4 linked regions of the Homo sapiens genome follow. The protein of the gene in region 4 interacts with the protein of the main gene of each other region in a pairwise test. Each region holds a gene or a part of one and is shown on either strand. Other genes may lie near its edges.

The links. Proteins that work in one complex are often made in the same cells at the same time.
Region 1: the proteins of TOLLIP (region 4) and PHAF1 interact in binary tests that used the Homo sapiens proteins (3 or more experiments, as listed by UniProt).
Region 2: the proteins of TOLLIP (region 4) and ARRDC3 interact in binary tests that used the Homo sapiens proteins (3 or more experiments, as listed by UniProt).
Region 3: the proteins of TOLLIP (region 4) and NRF1 interact in binary tests that used the Homo sapiens proteins (3 or more experiments, as listed by UniProt).

What each region holds. Positions count from the first base shown.
Region 1 is NC_000016.10:67,137,295-67,141,130, forward strand, and holds part of PHAF1 (phagosome assembly factor 1), read left to right. Parts: intron 1-2,689; coding exon 2,690-2,823; intron 2,824-3,216; coding exon 3,217-3,300; intron 3,301-3,836. UniProt on the Homo sapiens protein: Plays a regulatory role in autophagic activity. In complex with BCAS3, associates with the autophagosome formation site during both non-selective and selective autophagy.
Region 2 is NC_000005.10:91,373,128-91,376,963, forward strand, and holds part of ARRDC3 (arrestin domain-containing protein 3), read right to left. Parts: intron 3,642-3,836; coding exon 3,494-3,641; intron 2,487-3,493; coding exon 2,384-2,486; intron 2,052-2,383; coding exon 1,795-2,051; intron 1,150-1,794; coding exon 987-1,149; intron 750-986; exon of another isoform or gene 712-749; coding exon 557-711; intron 1-556. UniProt on the Homo sapiens protein: Adapter protein that plays a role in regulating cell-surface expression of adrenergic receptors and probably also other G protein-coupled receptors.
Region 3 is NC_000007.14:129,614,574-129,618,409, forward strand, and holds part of NRF1 (nuclear respiratory factor 1), read left to right. Parts: intron 1-3,836. UniProt on the Homo sapiens protein: Transcription factor that activates the expression of the EIF2S1 (EIF2-alpha) gene. Links the transcriptional modulation of key metabolic genes to cellular growth and development.
Region 4 is NC_000011.10:1,292,524-1,297,577, reverse strand, and holds part of TOLLIP (toll-interacting protein), read left to right. Parts: exon of another isoform or gene 1-1,050; coding exon of another isoform or gene 1,051-1,122; intron 1,123-1,783; coding exon 1,784-1,933; intron 1,934-5,054. UniProt on the Homo sapiens protein: Component of the signaling pathway of IL-1 and Toll-like receptors. Inhibits cell activation by microbial products. Recruits IRAK1 to the IL-1 receptor complex. Inhibits IRAK1 phosphorylation and kinase activity.

The DNA of each region.
Region 1 (3,836 bases), on a different chromosome or scaffold from region 4:
TGCTTAAGCTATGGTTTTGGGGTTTTTTGTTGTTGTTGTTTTTTGACAGAGTCTTGCTGTGTTGTCCAGGCTAGAGTGCAGTGGTGTGATCTCAGCTCACTGCAACCTCTGCCTCCTGGGTTAAAGCGATTCTCATGCCTCAGCCTCCCAAGTATCTGGGATTACAGACGTGTGCCACCACGCCAGGCTAATTTCTGTATTTTTAGTAGAGATGGGGTTTCACCATATTGACCAGGCTGGTCTCAAACTCCTGACATCAAGTGATCCGCCCGCCTCAACCTCCCAAAGTGCTGGGATTACAGGTGTGAGCCACCGCACCCAGCCTGAGCTATAGTTTTTGAGAGAATTGAGATGTGGCAGCAAAGTCAAGTGATTTAGTGTGGTTTTTTCCCAAGAGGATCACTGCTTGAAACAGCAGGGTGGTCAAGGATCAGGGTCATTAATCATCCCAGGAGACAGCAGGAGGAGCCTGTCGAGGGTGGGCTCTCAGCCAATTATGTCTGCCACCTTGTACAGCACATTCCCAGCAGTCACACTGCTCACTGCTTACACTGTCAGCAGGGCAAATGATTTGTTAAGTCAGGGCCTCAAAGGGTTATCGTCTTCACTGAGAGTTTCCTGTGGCAAGCACAAGTTTCTCAACCCACTCATTTCTCATATCCTTCCTTATGGAATATGGCTGCAGTGATGCTTTTAATGCAGGGAGTCAGTTCAGCCATCTGGTCTCCACAATAATTTGTAGAAAGATACACTTTGGGGAATCACAATCTAAAAAGTAGCTGAAACTCTTAGTAATTATACCTGGATATACTTCAAGCAGAGGGAGACAGAAGACTTACCTTTGAAGGGTGCCTTCCTTACAGCCCCCATCTGACATCCACACGTATCTGGTGCCTGAAGAAATGTGTTAGGCCACTGGATACTTTGGGCCCAGAGTCCAGCTTGACAGGACTTTTGGTGGGTTCTATAGGTCACCCAAGGCTTGCCTAAGCCTTTATTTCCCCCTCAGTGTATACTTGCTGAGAATAGAGATTCTTGGGTTAGTTGAACTCAGTATTTAGTTATTTCAGATTTGGGTTCTCTGAAGCTTCTGCATATAAAAAATGGATTGTTACACATGAGAGAACTTTGACAACTGTAAAGCCTTGTGCTGAGTAAGATGGTGTCAGTGATTATCATGGCACCAAGAATTACAATCCTTCTCAGATTCTTGGCTTCCTTTTTTTTTTTGCTGGGTGGTGGGAGCAAAAACCTTGTCTCCCCCTCCACAAAATGGGGAAATTTTTACTGTTGGTGTATCTATTACTGTGCCACAACCACTTCTACATTTGTGTGTTTGTGTGTGTGTCATTAACTGTAATCATTTCTGAAATGTTTTATTAGAAAAAGTCAGAGCTTAAAGATTCTTCCCAAAGAATAAACTTTTGGCAAATCAGAAGGTCTTTTATTCCTCCACTTAGCTGGTTTGTCCCTTTTGAGTGATAATGGCTCTTGTCTGGGTTGGAGGGCTCTGTCAGGTGTTTGTGTAGAATTAGGGAGACAAGTAATGCATGCTTCACTCTACTTGTTGATAGAGCAGTTTTACAGGTTCAGTGTCTCTGGTTAGGGGTTACCATTGAGAGTACTTTTGTAGTTTTTTTTTAAGACAGTGTCTCACTCTGTCACCCAGGCTGGAATGCAGTGGTGTGATCTTAGCTCACTGCAGTCTCTGCCTCCTGGGCTCAAGTGATCCTCCCACCTTAGCCTCCCAAGTAGCTAGGACTGCAGGAGTGTGCCACCACGCCTGGCTAATTTTTATATTATATTTTGTAGAGCCAGGGTTTCACCATGTTGCCCAGGCTGGTCTTGAACGCCTGAGCTCAAGCAGTTCACCCCGCTTGGCCTCCCAAAGTGCTGGGATCATAGGCAAGAGCCACCACACCCGGCCAAGAAGTACCTCTTAACATAAATCCTTGCATCTTACCATAGTTGTGTGATGATCTGATTAAGGTCTTCTCCAGCACACATAAGCTCCAGTGATGGAGCTTATGGAGAAAAAACAGCACTGCCTTTTTTTTTTTTTTTTTTTTTTTTTGAGACTGTCTCAGTCTGTCACCCAGGCTAGAGTGCAGTGGTGTGATCTTGGCTCACTGCAACCTCTGCCTCCTGGGCTCAAGTGATCCTCCCACCTCACCCTTCCAAGTAGATGGGACTACAGACACCCACCACCATGCCCAGCTAATTTTTGTATGTTTTTGTAGAGACGGAGTATCACCATGTTGCCCAGGCTGGTGTCAAACTCTGAGCTCAAACAACCCATCCGCCTTGGCCTCCCAAAGTGCTGGGATTATAGGCGTGAGCCACCACGTCTGGCCAGAAACTGCACTGTTTTTGTTCACTTTTGTTTCTTCAACATCTAGCACAATGTCCTAGCCCATGGTAGGCAATAAAGTAGTGAATGAATAAGTGAATGAAGTATCCAGAGCTTCATGTCACATGTGGGGGATTGAATAAGTCCCTGGCATTATTTTGAATAGCGATCTCTTGTACAGTCTTAAGCCCTGGTGACCTGATGTTTCTGATTGCATGCAGTCTTGCCCCTTGCCAGACCTAATAATGTAGCATGCAGCCAGTAGCTTCTCTGGGGCCCCCAGAGAGGGTCTCTGGTCCTAACCATAACCTGACAACCTCTCTGTCTTGTTTTTTGCAGGTTGTGGACCTGGCCTATTAGCAGATGCCAAGATGCGGGTATTTGAACGTTCAGTGTATTTTGGTGATTCCTGCCAAGATGTTCTTAGCATGCTTGGCTCTCCACACAAAGTCTTCTATAAATCAGAAGACAAGGTAGGGGAATTATGTTGCAGTCTCCTCCTTTTTTTTAATCAACACTAATTTAATATTGAGTATAAACTGTTTGCTATTTTCCCATAGAACTTGTTCTAAGTAAAGCTAATGGTAAAGTAAATTGAAAACTGTTTTCTAACCCCTGTAGTCCAATTACCCTGACTCTGTCCCTCTCCATAGTGCCTACCTTTCCTTAGAGACCAAGACAGTCCCTAGTCAACGACAGCTGGCCCCCTCTCCTCCTAGATTGGTCAGCACCAGCAGCTGAGACTCCCCACTCTTGCTTGTTCCGCAGCTTAATGTTACACATGGAACACAATTTGTAGACTTTCAGTTAATCCAGAACTATATTAGAGGGATGGATTTTAATTTATGGTTATTTTTTCCCTACAGATGAAAATTCATTCTCCTTCCCCTCATAAACAAGTTCCATCGAAGTGTAATGACTACTTTTTTAACTACTTCACTCTTGGAGTGGTAAGTTGTGATTCCTCAGAGAAGCCCTTCATTTCTATTGGGGTGGGCAGTGCATCTTTGCAGATCTGTGTGTCCACATGCAGCTGGAACCATGCCTGGACATTGGGGAACCTAGCCCCAGCTGTCTTTGCCCAGGGTTGTTTTGCATAGGCTCTGGTACTCCAAAGTAGACCTTGCCTGCAACCAGGATTGCTCAGGAACACTAGGTTCCCTGGTACCTGTTGACTTCTTTTCTGAGGGAAACATGTTCCACAGATGGAGGCCTTGGAAATCATTCAGATTAAGCTGTTTGGAGAGCTGCCCTTTTGTAAAGCATAGGACCCTCTTCTTGAGTCACAAAATGGAGACTGAAAAGGATTGGAGACAGTGGGGTGTGCTTGTATATTTTTAGAGGACCACCCCAGAGGCATTGCTGTATCCCTGTGCTATGGACCCAGGGAGCTGGATATAGCTGGTAGCTGGCCAGTGCGGACAGTCCAGCTGGTGGGTGAGTTGCATACATGAGAAATTATTGTATAAACAGTGTTTCAGCAGGA
Region 2 (3,836 bases), on a different chromosome or scaffold from region 4:
GTTTTCCTCAGTAATCTGTGGGTTTCTCCTAAGGGCCATGTTTTATTTACATTTAAGTGCTTAGCTGCCATCAATATGAGATGAACGAAAATAGTCTAACCATGTGGGAATGTTGTTTTAAGATGTTATCACAAATACATTATTTCTTATGACTGAGAATGTCAAAATATGCAATTGGAAAAGCATCATGAATAAGATAAATTCTACTATTTAATCAGTGTTTGCAAAATGCTAGTTCTTCCTATTGATGCTTGGATATACAAAATTCTTCCTTCAAAAAATGTGTCTCAAGATAAAAGTTTAAGAGAAAAAAAAATTAGTAATTCAACATGAGGTTAGATCATTATCTTAATTCCCTAATAAGTGAACAGTCCTACCTCTGCATCAAACTTAGTAAATATTGATGAACCTAATATTAACTTTTAATCTGTTGTTTTAAATTATTTGTTCTGTTAACATGATAATCAAGATCTAATAACATTAAGAAAAAAAAATGCCTGCAATGCTATTTCCCAAGATAGCCAGTTCATTTCATACTTAAGGAGTAGGTACTTACCTCTGAATAAAGAGGTGGAGGCAAGAATCGAAACTCCTGGATATATGCAAACAGTGGTCCTTGAAGGGCTCTCTCAAAGTCATCACAAGCACTCACTGGTGCAAGATTGTTCCGCCTTTGTTCCTCTGTTACCACTTCTGCATAGCTGGGTGGTGCTGAAGGAAAAAGATACACGCAATTCGAACAGCATGTTCTTATGCATGTCAAAATACACAGAATAGTAGGTATTAAAAAGCAACGTCAAGGTAAAATAATTATTGTTTGGTGATCAAAACTATGAAGACATATAATCAAAACTGAATATTAGGGGCACATCTACTTTCTTTAGGAAAAGATTATGTTCATCTAGGGTCATAAAATATCAGAGGCAAAATAATTTTCTTGATAATAGTAGTAAGAGATTAAGCTTAGACGTGTATTATCAAATTACCTTCAGGTCTTTCAGGAAGTGATAAACTGAGCCAGTTCATATTCATGCTACACTGACTGCTTACACTTGAGGTTCTGCTACCAAATGGATGTAGAGGAATGGTACCGATGACAAGTGGCAAATTAAGAAATAAATCCATAGCTCCAGGAATATCCACATATACCTAAACATTGCAAAGAAATATTAAGTTTAGAATGCCAAGTATGATTTCCTTTTCAAAAACTCATAACCAATTTTAATGTTATTTGAAACCCCCATTTACTTCATTTTTAAACTTACATACATGAAAAGTTTCTCTTTTATGTATAATTCTGTATAGTACATTTACATATAAGGTATAATTGTAAGTCAAACTATATAAAGAGTTATGTATTTTATATGTCACTATATATGGAATTTAAAAAAATCAAATCCTGGATGTAAGACAAAACTATGTCATAACTTTAAGACTTAAAAACAAAACAAAAAAAAACACCAAAAACCTCTTGGGCCAGGCACTGTGGCTCATGCCTATAATTCCAACATTTTGGGAGGCCATGGTGGATGGATCACTTGAGCCCAGGAGTTCAAGACCAACCTGGGCGACATGGTCAAACTCCATCACTACAAAAAATACAAAAATTATCCAGGCATGGCTATAGGCACACCTGTAGTCCCAACTACTTGGGAGCTGAGGTGGGAGGATCACTGGAGCCCAGAAAGCAGAGGCTGTAGCGGAGCTGAGACTGTGCCACTGCATTCCAGCCTGGGTGACAGGTGTTTCAAAAAAGAAAAAAGAAAGGAAAAAACCTCTTAAATGTGTACATACCATTAGTGAATATTCCACGCGGATTATACTACAGTCGAGGATAGAGGGAGAAACTGGTGGAATTTTCAGCAACTTGCCATTCCACGTCTCTGTCTTTCCAGATGATAAGGATTCCCCACGCAAGTTAGCCACAAGCTGTTTTACTTCCTTCATTTTCCCTTTGGCATAGAAGGCCTGTGTTTGGTAAATGGCTGCCTTTGGCACCACCATTCGGGAAGAGCAGTTCTCAATCTCAGCAAATATCTGAATTGATTCACCTAGAGAGGGAAAAATATATACATATCTACTGTTAGAAAAAAACAACAAAAGAAGTCAAGATTCTTAAAGCTAAAGTAAGAAAGTGCAACTAACATACATGAAAAGATGTCCCAGGAACTGCAAATAACTTGAGTCATAGAAATGAACTAATCAGTAGCTATTTGAAAAAGGAAACTACATTCTACTTTGTGAAAAAAACAAATGGATAAGCACAATTTGTTATTTCACAAAAGAATACTATATTATGTTTATATTTAGTAGTCATATTATAAATTTAAACACAAAAGCTAAGTGAAGAAAAGTTTTTTGTGGGAATCTACCTCTTACATACCTGGGGTATAGCCCTTCCTTTCAATTTTGGCACTTAAGGATATTGGGCCTGAGGTACAGAACCAGCAACAGAGTGTCTTTTCTTTTGTGCCTGCTTGGGGTGACTGTAAGAAAAAAATTAAGAGAAAAAGGTCAGTGTATGGATTGGTACAATCAATACCAGAATATTTTAAAATATAACCCTAAATTTATGGAAAATTAAAAATTACAACTGGTTTTGCTTTTTTTTTGTATCCAGACATACTTCTTATTTTTTAACTAACCGATGGTTTTGAATTATACCATTACTTTTATTTTCATATAAATTTCCATTCAATTAGAAAAAAAAGGTAAAGGGTTTACAGCCTATCCCATAAACATAGTTTTTTAGCTCACACTATTTACAAATATAGTAATCAAAAACCAACCAAATAAAAAAAACCCTTTCCACATTCCATTTAAACTGCCTTAAAAAGGCAGCAAAGAAAGCAATCTGATTATAATTCCAAATGTTAACATCTTTCTCTGAGACTATTAAAAAATCAATATGTAAAAAAGGAAAATGCCCATTTCTTATGTGCTTTAAAGATGTTACCATTTGTTTAAATCAAATAAAGTTTTAAGTCAAATTTGAATTATTTTCAGACAAATGCAATTAAAAATAGATTTCTTTAAAAAAGGAGTTTTTTAATGAAACTAATGATTCCCCATTATTTGACAACTATCCCTCTATTGGAATAACAAAGTATAGTACAAATTTTAGATTATGATATTGTCAAGTAAGTGATATTGTATTATAATAAAAGATACTACTGCTCTTCTTCCACTCAAATCATCCAAGGACCAGATCTGTTTTTTGTTATGGCTGTCATACTCTGAGTAAGAGATACTTCATATCATATACTGGTCTTAGTTTTATATTTACTTAAAGGTATACTACAATGTCAAAAATATGAGCATATTTTTCATTAATTTCAGTGTTCTTGACTGTATTTAAGAAAATGTATATTTATGAAATTTTAAAAGAAAACCAGTATTTTTAAATTATGACAACTGCATAGTTTAGGTGATTGATTATTCTTTAATATTTATATGCCAAAAACAAAGAATAAATAATTCAGTCAATTCTTACCAGTAATGAAGGAGTGTTGATATCTATATGCTCAAAGACTGTAAATTCCTTCTTTAATTTTACTGGTAGTAGCCAAGGCCTGTGCAATTCGGCTTTCACCCAATAGCGCACACTGCCATGTCGGCCTTCGAATGAGGTAGCGAGTGGTCTGTGCAGAATATAAAGGTCAATATATTAATTTTATACCTCTTTCTAACAATTACACAGTAGGTCAGAATAGAAGTGTTAATATATTGTATTGTTTATGTTCCAATGAGGTATCAAACATATAATTTAAAAAATTTCCAAAGGGATAAGTCACTGGGGAAAAAACTTCCTATTTCCAACTAAGAATAAACAATAA
Region 3 (3,836 bases), on a different chromosome or scaffold from region 4:
CCCCAGTAGCTGAGACTATAGGCAAGTGCCACCGTGCTGGCAGTGGCTTCATAACATGTTTCAAGGAAATTTAGCTCCTGTGTTAAGAGAAGGAGCTATAGAAGTAGAAGATAATGAGGGCCCTTGTCCAGATATAGAAGGTTTAAAGGAGAAAGGATTTCAGGTTTCCTTCTGAATTCCTGTGTATGTCGTTAGGACCCCAAATTGTAGGTTTTTTGTTTTATTAAACGATAATTATGCACTTGTCTAATTTTGTTAGGGAACCGAAGGCCAACTTCCCATGATTTAAATACCTGAATTTGCATTGCCTGCACACTGTAGGTTCAACCAAATCTCTGGGTTGTCTTTAGAAGCATTTTATGTAAATAATCACGAATGAGTGACTTGTTTTAAGGGAAATTTAAGCTCCTGTGGTCTGGGATTAAATTTTTATGCCTTTTCTTGTATGGAATAAGGCATTCAGTAAAGTTGAAGAATAATAACAATGAACAGTAATTACTGAAATTAAAATTTTTCCCTGAGTATTTGAAAAGGCATGCTGATTTTTTGGTTTCTGGAGGAACTATGAACTGTCAGTCTTTAGAAACAGTCTACAGTCCTACCTCAACAGGAAGTTAATGTATACATTCAGCTTCTGTCAGATGTCTTTAGACAAGCCTGTTGCTTCATGCTGAAGCAGGCTTATTCATTCACACAGTGCCACTGTGAAAAATTGAAGGGTGAGGGGAAACTCCCTGGGCTGTTGAATTTCACAAATGTCTACTTTAACCTCAAGAGTTTAGATGCGCCCTTTCTGGGCCAGTAATCATCTAGGAAATGGGATATCTGAATTTAGATGTTTGTGTGTGACTGTGTGATGCTTATTAATATGTATATATAGAGTATTTGGAAAATCAATCTTAAAATGCAAATCTTTGATTTTGTAAAAAACATTTCAGGAAATGTTCTATACTAAAATACATTTTCTTTATGTTCTTTCATGTTTTCCTTGATAGCTAAAGCTAGTGTTTTCAGCCTGAGCTTACCCAAATATAATTTTCCATGAATGCTTAGTAAAACAGCAATGAAAAAGGAATCCACTTGTTATTTTAGAAACATTTTATTTAGACCAAGTCCAATGTTTTTTGAGTCTCAAGATACATGTTAATTTTTGTGCCTTGTGTATCATATTTCCTTCCTTATTAACTAGAGGGTGGATTACCCACTTTCTTGGGTTTTCAGTTAGTACTTTTATCCATCAGTTTTCTACTAAGGTAAACAGACTGGAAGATAAATAGTAAAAGGAGGTGAAACAAATGAATTTCAGGTGTTTCCAGGAGATTAAAACCATATTGAGCTATTGGAAACTTTTAATCCTCAAGCAACAACAATGCTTTGTTTGAAGTTATTTTAGTGCAATATGGACAAAACTTGGGAAAGGAATTTTTGACTGCTCAAGAAAAATAAGTGGATTGCTTATACCTTAGAATATATATATATACACACACACATATATATATTTTTTATTTTTTCAAAAGTGCACTTCAGAATTGGGCTAATGTATTTTCAGCCCAACTTAATGCAGTGTAGTTAGCAAAACATCCAAAAGGCTTCATCATGTTGTGGTCTTTAGGCCTAAAATGTTTTAAAATGTGAACATTTATGTGATACCAAGTAAACTTTCTATGACCCAAAGAAGGGCTAGAAATAAAACTTTACAGAGATGTTCTAGTATATTAGAAAACAATGGCTGGTTATGGTGGTTCATGCCTATAATCCCAGCACTTTGGGAGGCCAAGGCAGGAAGATTGCTTGAGGCTAGGAATTCTAGACCAGCCTGGGCAATGTAGTGACATCCTGTCTTTACAGAATATTTAAAAAAACAAAAAAACGAAAAACTAGCTGGGTATGGTGGCATATGCCTATAGTTTGAGCTATTCAGGAGGCTGAGGCAGGAGGATCACTTGAACTTAGGAGTTTGAGGTTGCAGTGAGCATAATCATGCCATTGTGTTCCTGCCTGGGCGACAGTGCGACCGTGTTTCTTAAAAAAAACTAGTTGCTGTTAAGGTAGGCCTACCACATTTGTAATCTCTTGAGGCAAATCTGTGTTGTTTCTCTAAGAGCAGTCACTTAGAAGATAATCTGACAGTAAGGAATGGTCTACTGAATCCCAGATCTGGTAGTCTGCCTTGCCCAATCACAACATAGTTTGTGTAAAACTCCAACTGCTACTGAACCATCAGATAATTTCTTGAGGAAGCCGTTTCTCTTAAGGAGAAGTGTGTGTGTGTTGGAGGGAGTGTTGGTGGGGAGAAGAGGGGTAAAGAGAAGATGATACTAGTAAAATAATCTAGTTTTGTAGGTTGGGATGATCACTGGAATTTTTTAGGGGAAATATTCTCAAAAAAAGTTGTAAGAGCTACTTTTGTATGGGTTATCAGTTTGGTGATTTAGACTATAGTAATTGCATTGTTTAATATGCATTGTATTTCGATTAATTCATGCATGCTGATTTCTGTGGTAACAAATGTGAAAAGTTTGGCTGATGGCTTAAGTGGACATTTTCTTAAGAACTCTTTAAGTGGTGCCTGTTGGGATAAACTATGCCAAGCCATTTTCTGAATCTTCATGAAGAATGAGCTTTGTATGCATATATATTAAGACAGTTTTTTTTAAAAAGAGCATGTATTTTACTGTTGGTAATTGTAAAGTTTTTGCTTTTTAGAACTTTAAGAGTCCGTTTTGTTGCTGCTACTGAATGCTAATGTGGTTAGGCTGGCAGCTAAACCTACAAAGAACAAGGGGAAATGAGGAAATGTCCCAATGAAACATTGCTTAAAACTGTTTGCGCAGTGGACTAGAAATGGGGAGTTGGGGACTAGGGGACCTGATTCTTGTTTTATGTTCAAAGGAGAGTGAAGCATTCTCTCCATTAAGAAATAACCTCCTTAAGTGTATTCTCACTTTGGAGTTTTGCCACTCATTCATTCACCTGACGATGATTAAAGATATACCACATTCTGGGCATGTACTAGGTGCTAGAGTAACAAATCTTGGGCCTTGTCGTGTAGAGCAGAAAGGTATGGGCTCAACTAGCTATGTTACAACTTCTAGAGAACCAAAATAGAGCAAACAAAGAGTGGTGTGGGATTATAGGAGGAGGGAGAAATTCCTTCTAGGGAGAGGAGAATGATACACAGAGAAAAGTGAGGTTAGGGAAGACTTTTCACATAGGGGAAGTTTGAGTAGGACTTGGAAGGGGGAGTAGCTGCATTACTGATGGAGAAGAGGGGCTGAGAGGAAGGGCATCAGTAGTCTGATTTGAGAACTAGCAAGTGGATTTTGCTCGACTTGGAGAATAGTGGAAAGTGAAACTGATAAGGTTGTGGCCATATTGGGAAGAGTTTGTAATTCCATGCTCATGAGTGTGAACTTTATTCTATAGGCATTTAGGGACCATAAGAGGTTTGAGTAGGACATCCACTATGGTTTTTAAAAAGATGACATGTAAAGATTTGACTAGAGACTTGTGAGAGTATTGAATTGTGATGTAAAAGGACATCGATTCTGGGGATAATTTTTACTTCACAGTTGTCAGATTTGAGTGACAATTGAGTAAAGAGTTAAAGATTATAGTGTGGTTATTGGGTGATGATGATGCCTTTAAGATAGGGAATGTATAGGAAGAACAGAATTTGAGGAGGAAGGTAATAGAGTATGACTCCAGATGTGTTAAGATATCTGGGAATCAAGAAAGGTCAAGTAAGTACCTGGGTATTTGGGCTGGAGCTCAAGGGGACATTGGGATAAATTAGGGGATTTGCATTCATCAGTATAATGCCATATAGAAACTGC
Region 4 (5,054 bases):
GGGAAACGCACAAAGTGTGTTTTGCTTTTTAGAGAAGAGCGGTTGAGCACACGCCATGCTGGCTGCTCAGGTTGGGGTGCAGCCTGCAGAGAGCTTCCCGAACTTGGGGGTCCTGAGTCCGTAACTGCTCGAAGCGGTGCCTGGATCGTCCGGGTCCCTTCTGTTTACTCACATTGGTTGTGGAGCGCTGACTGGCTTGTGCGCTCCAGGCCTTAGATGGGGACACAGGTGAGGAGCTAGACCCTCTCGGGGTCCTTTGAAGTGCCAGGCGCCCAGAGCACAGCAGGTGCAGGGCTTAACTCAGAACCTCCTGGAGCCCTGCCTGGCACCGTGTCATTGGGAGTCCATGGCACAGGCAGGTACGGGTTTCTGGTGTGCATGGCAGAGGCGTTCTGGCGGCCTCAGCACGTGCACTTTGCCTAAGCTCACGTCCGACACACCGAGGGTTCCAGGTTCCACTCGGTATTTCCTGAAAACAACTGCCCAGGGCACTGGCGCTGACCGGGGCCCCTGCAGACGGCTGGGTCTCCACCCCACTCCACCAGCAACCAGGCCTCCACCCCACTCCACCAGCAACCAGGCCTCCACCCCACTCCACCAGCAACCAGGCCTCCACCCCACTCCACCAGCAACCAGGCCTCCACCCCACTCCACCAGCAACCAGGCCTCCACCCCACTCCACCAGCAACCAGGCCTCCACCCCACTCCACCAGCAACCAGGCCTCCACCCCACTCCACCAGCAACCAGGCCTCCACCCCACTCCTCCATCAACCAGGCCTCCACCCCACTCCACCAGCAACCAGGCCTCCACCCCACTCCACCAGCAACCAGGCCTCCACCCCACTCCTCCAGCAACCAGGCCTCCACCCCACTCCACCAGCAACCAGGCCTCCACCCCACTCCACCAGCAACCAGGCCTCCATCCCACTCCTCCAGCAACCAGGCCTCCACCAGCAACCAGGCCTCCACCCCACTCCACCAGCAACCAGGCCTCCACCCCACTCCTCCAGCAACCAGGCCTCCACCCCACTCCACCAGCAGCCAGACCCATGCTCAGGGCCTCATCAGCGACCTTTCACCTGTGGAGCATGGTTTACCCCAGGCCCCTTCGGCCGCTGCAGGTGTGCGGGTGGTTTCGGGATGGCATTGTCCTGCCTGGGCCCATCCTCTCTCTTCCCCTCAGAAGTGGCAGTGGTGGACAGAGGGTCGAGGAGACATAGGATGCAGAGTGGGGAGGTCTTTCGTGGTTGTTTGGAATCGATTTACTTCCTGCGTTCTTCTGGGATACTTTTGAATTTCAGCTGTTTCATGTGGAAACATTTGAAGTATATCAGCAGAGGGTTTTCCAAATCACTTTAGACCTGAGGCTCAGCTTTTGTCTCATTCGTTTGACCAAGTGACCTGCAGTTCAGTGGCCCTGCCTTTAGCTGTGGACAAGGAGAAAGAAGCCGTGGGCACACATGGTGCAAGGGAGACCCTTTAAAATGACCTGAAAACCCACCTGAGCAGGCTTTGAGGACAGGAACCCATTTTTAGCGGCAGAAACCTGCATTTGGGGATCTCCTGAGTGAGGGCTGCACCTGTACCGCTGGGGGCCAGGCCCCAGGCTGGACACCCTTGACCCCTCCGTTTAGAGATGAGGAAACTGAGGCTGAGCACAGTCCAGGACTTGATAAGGACATGGGTGGGGGCGGGGCCGCGGGAATGCCGGGGGCAGCTGCTGTCGGGCTGCTTTGTGCCCCCACCCTGACTCACTGGCCTCTCTGGTCCCCGGCCCCGCAGGTGTACATCGGTGAGCTCCCGCAGGACTTCCTCCGCATCACGCCCACACAGCAGCAGCGGCAGGTCCAGCTGGACGCCCAGGCGGCCCAGCAGCTGCAGTACGGAGGCGCAGTGGGCACCGTGGGCCGACTGAACATCACGGTGGTACAGGTGGGCCTTGGGGCACCCTCCTGCCTGCCTGGGGCTGGTGCGCTCGGTGGGGGTGGGATTTCGGATTTCGGCGTTTATACTGCATTTCCTAAGCGGGCAAACAGAACTTCTGATTCCCGCTTTTCCTGAAACCTGTGTGATGTTGAAAACGATCTGTGTGAAAGATATTGGCATTGACCCCGGGTTCTACCAAACATAACTCAAGTGATGAGTAGTGGGTGTAGGTGGGCGTCTGCTCTGTGTAGGGCCTGGCTCTTCCACCAGGCTTGAGTACGCCCAAGGACACCTCCCGGACCCCCGCCGGCAGCTGGAGGAGGCGCGGCCGGCACCCCCGCCACCTGGTGTGTGCTGCGTGAGTGGCTTCCTGTTGGCCTCAGTGCCGGTGCCTGCACCCTCCCTCCCCACAGAGCAGCCCTCGGTCAGCCTCGGGGCCGGCCCGTGGTTGCTTAGTGGTCTTTCAAGTGAAAGCCAAAATCGGCAGATTGAACGCCGATTTTGATCACACGAAAACCGTCTGTAAGACTGCAGGAAAAGGAAACACACTGTGAGCCACGCAGGCTTTCGTAGAAATGCAGGGAAAGGAGACACACTGTGAGCCACGCAGGCTTTCGTAGAAATGCAGGGAAAGGAGACACACCGTGAGCCACGCGGGCTTTCGTAGAAATGCAGGGAAAGGAGACACACCGTGAGCCACGCGGGCTTTCGTAGAAATGCAGGGAAAGGAGACACACCGTGAGCCACCCGGGCTTTCGTAGAAATGCAGGGAAAGGAGACACACCGTGAGCCACGCGGGCTTTCGTAGAAATGCAGGAAAAGGAGACACACCGTGAGCCACGCGGGCTTTCGTAGAAATGCAGGAAAAGGAGACACACCGTGAGCCACGCGGGCTTTCGTAGAAATGCAGGGAAAGGAGACACACCGTGAGCCACGCGGGCTTTCGTAGAAATGCAGGGAAAGGAGACACACCGTGAGCCACGCGGGCTTTCGTAGAAATGCAGGGAAAGGAGACACACCGTGAGCCACGCGGGCTTTCGTAGAAATGCAGGGAAAGGAGACACACCGTGAGCCACGCGGGCTTTCGTAGAAATGCAGGGAAAGGAGACACACCGTGAGCCACGCGGGCTTTCGTAGAAATGCAGGGAAAGGAGACACACTGTGAGCCACGCGGGCTTTCGTAGAAATGCAGGGAAAGGAGACACACTGTGAGCCACGCGGCTTTCGTAGAAATGCAGGGAAAGGAGACACACTGAGCCATGCGGGCTTTCGTAGAAATGCAGGGAAAGGAGACACACCGTGAGCCACGCGGGCTTTCGTAGAAATGCAGGGAAAGGAGACACACTGTGAGCCACGCGGGCTTTCGTAGAAATGCAGGGAAAGGAGACACACTGTGAGCCACGCGGGCTTTCGTAGAAATGCAGGGAAAGGAGACACACTGTGAGCCACACGGCTTTCATAGAAATGCAGGGAAAGGAGACACACTGAGCCATGCGGGCTTTTGTAGAAATGCAGGGAAAGGAGACACACTGTGAGCCACGCGGGCTTTCGTAGAAATGCAGGGAAAGGAGACACACTGTGAGCCACGCGGCTTTCATAGAAATGCACAAATACAGCAGGCAGAAGAATCGCCGTGGACCTCACAAATAAGACTTGCTTTCAGGGGCTTCATGGTGTGGTGAGCACAGCTACACCGTCACCCCTTCCTCGCGGCGTGTCTCAGACCCTTGCTTGTGCAGCTGTTACTGTGCTGGTGTGGCCGATCCCTCTGCCCACCCAGTGAACTCCCGTAAGCCCATGCATTCCTGTGCCAGCTGCCACCAGGCCAGCCAGTGCCATCACCCGTCCTCAGCCGCCACCTCCTGGCAGGGCCTGGTGACCGCAGGGCACTCCACCTCACACAGTTCAAGCTCCAGAGCTGGCTGGGCCTTGGAGGTGGCCCTGGCGTTGCCCACGCCTCTGGCCCCCCTTGGTCCTCTCCCGCACCCTGGAGCCCACCACAGGCAGCCTGTTTCCTCCACGTGAGCTCACCCAGCCTTCTGTGGCGCAGCTCCAGTGGTGGGAAACATTCCTGCCTCCTCACTGGGCCAGGTAGCTCAGCCCCTGTTTCCTGCTTCTCTTGGCTTCTGGGCGGCCACACAGGTGGTTCCCTGCTTGCGTCCCCTCGCTGCTTCCCCTTGTTGTCTCCTGGGGCCCCAGTGGGATGCCAAGGGGTCTGGTCCTCAGCCCTCCTCCCCTCTCTGCCCACACATCCCGGTGACTTCTGCATCCCTGTGGGTCTAAACACCCATGTGCTGGCCCCAGCCTGAGCCGACCACTCAGCTCCACCCCAGATCCCTAGGTACGGACCATGGCCACATGGCCTCCCCAGGTGTTCCGTGGGCACTCCGGACTCCGTGTGCCCAAGGTGGAGCTCTCGGGCCACCCTCCCGGCTTCTCCCCCGTGTCCGCAGGTGGCTGCCCCACACTCTGGAAGCTGAGGCCCAAAGCCCTCGTGCTGCTGGTGCTCCAGGTTCATGTCCACCTCTTGCCCTTCAGGCCTGACCCTCAGCACAGGCGCCACCTTCAGCCCGTCCAGGCCTGGAGCCCCCCGCACCCACCCACTGCCCCCGCTCAGCCCCTGCAGCGTGGCCAGAGTAGGTCCGTTCCCGCGTGGGCCTTTCTCGTGGGCACTGTCCTGCCGAGCCTGCTCCAGCTGGGCCCATGTTTTCCTCACCCTAGTCACTCCTGACCTTCCTCTTCCCTGGCCGTTCTCCTCCCGCTTCCTGCAGCTCTTCCTCCAGATCCTGCAGCCCGCATACCCGGTCCTCCTAGCTGGTCACTCCCTGCAGTGGTAACGCCGTCTGCTGCGCTGTGTGTCTGCCGCGCATCTCTTGCCCATTGTGGGGAAAGCAGCGGTGCCCGTGTGTCCCCACGGTGTCTGCTGTCTGACGTGCGTCTCTTGCCCGTTGTGGGGGAGGCAGCGGTGCCCGTGTGTCCCCACGGTGTCCACAGTGTCTCCTGCACCAGAACAGCATGTGGTTGTGTGCAGTCATAGTGAATGGGCAGATGCTTCCATAAACATCGAGGAGGTCACTTCAGCAGAGCAGTTGATGTCACAGGACGCTCATCCTAGAGTTTTCTAGCC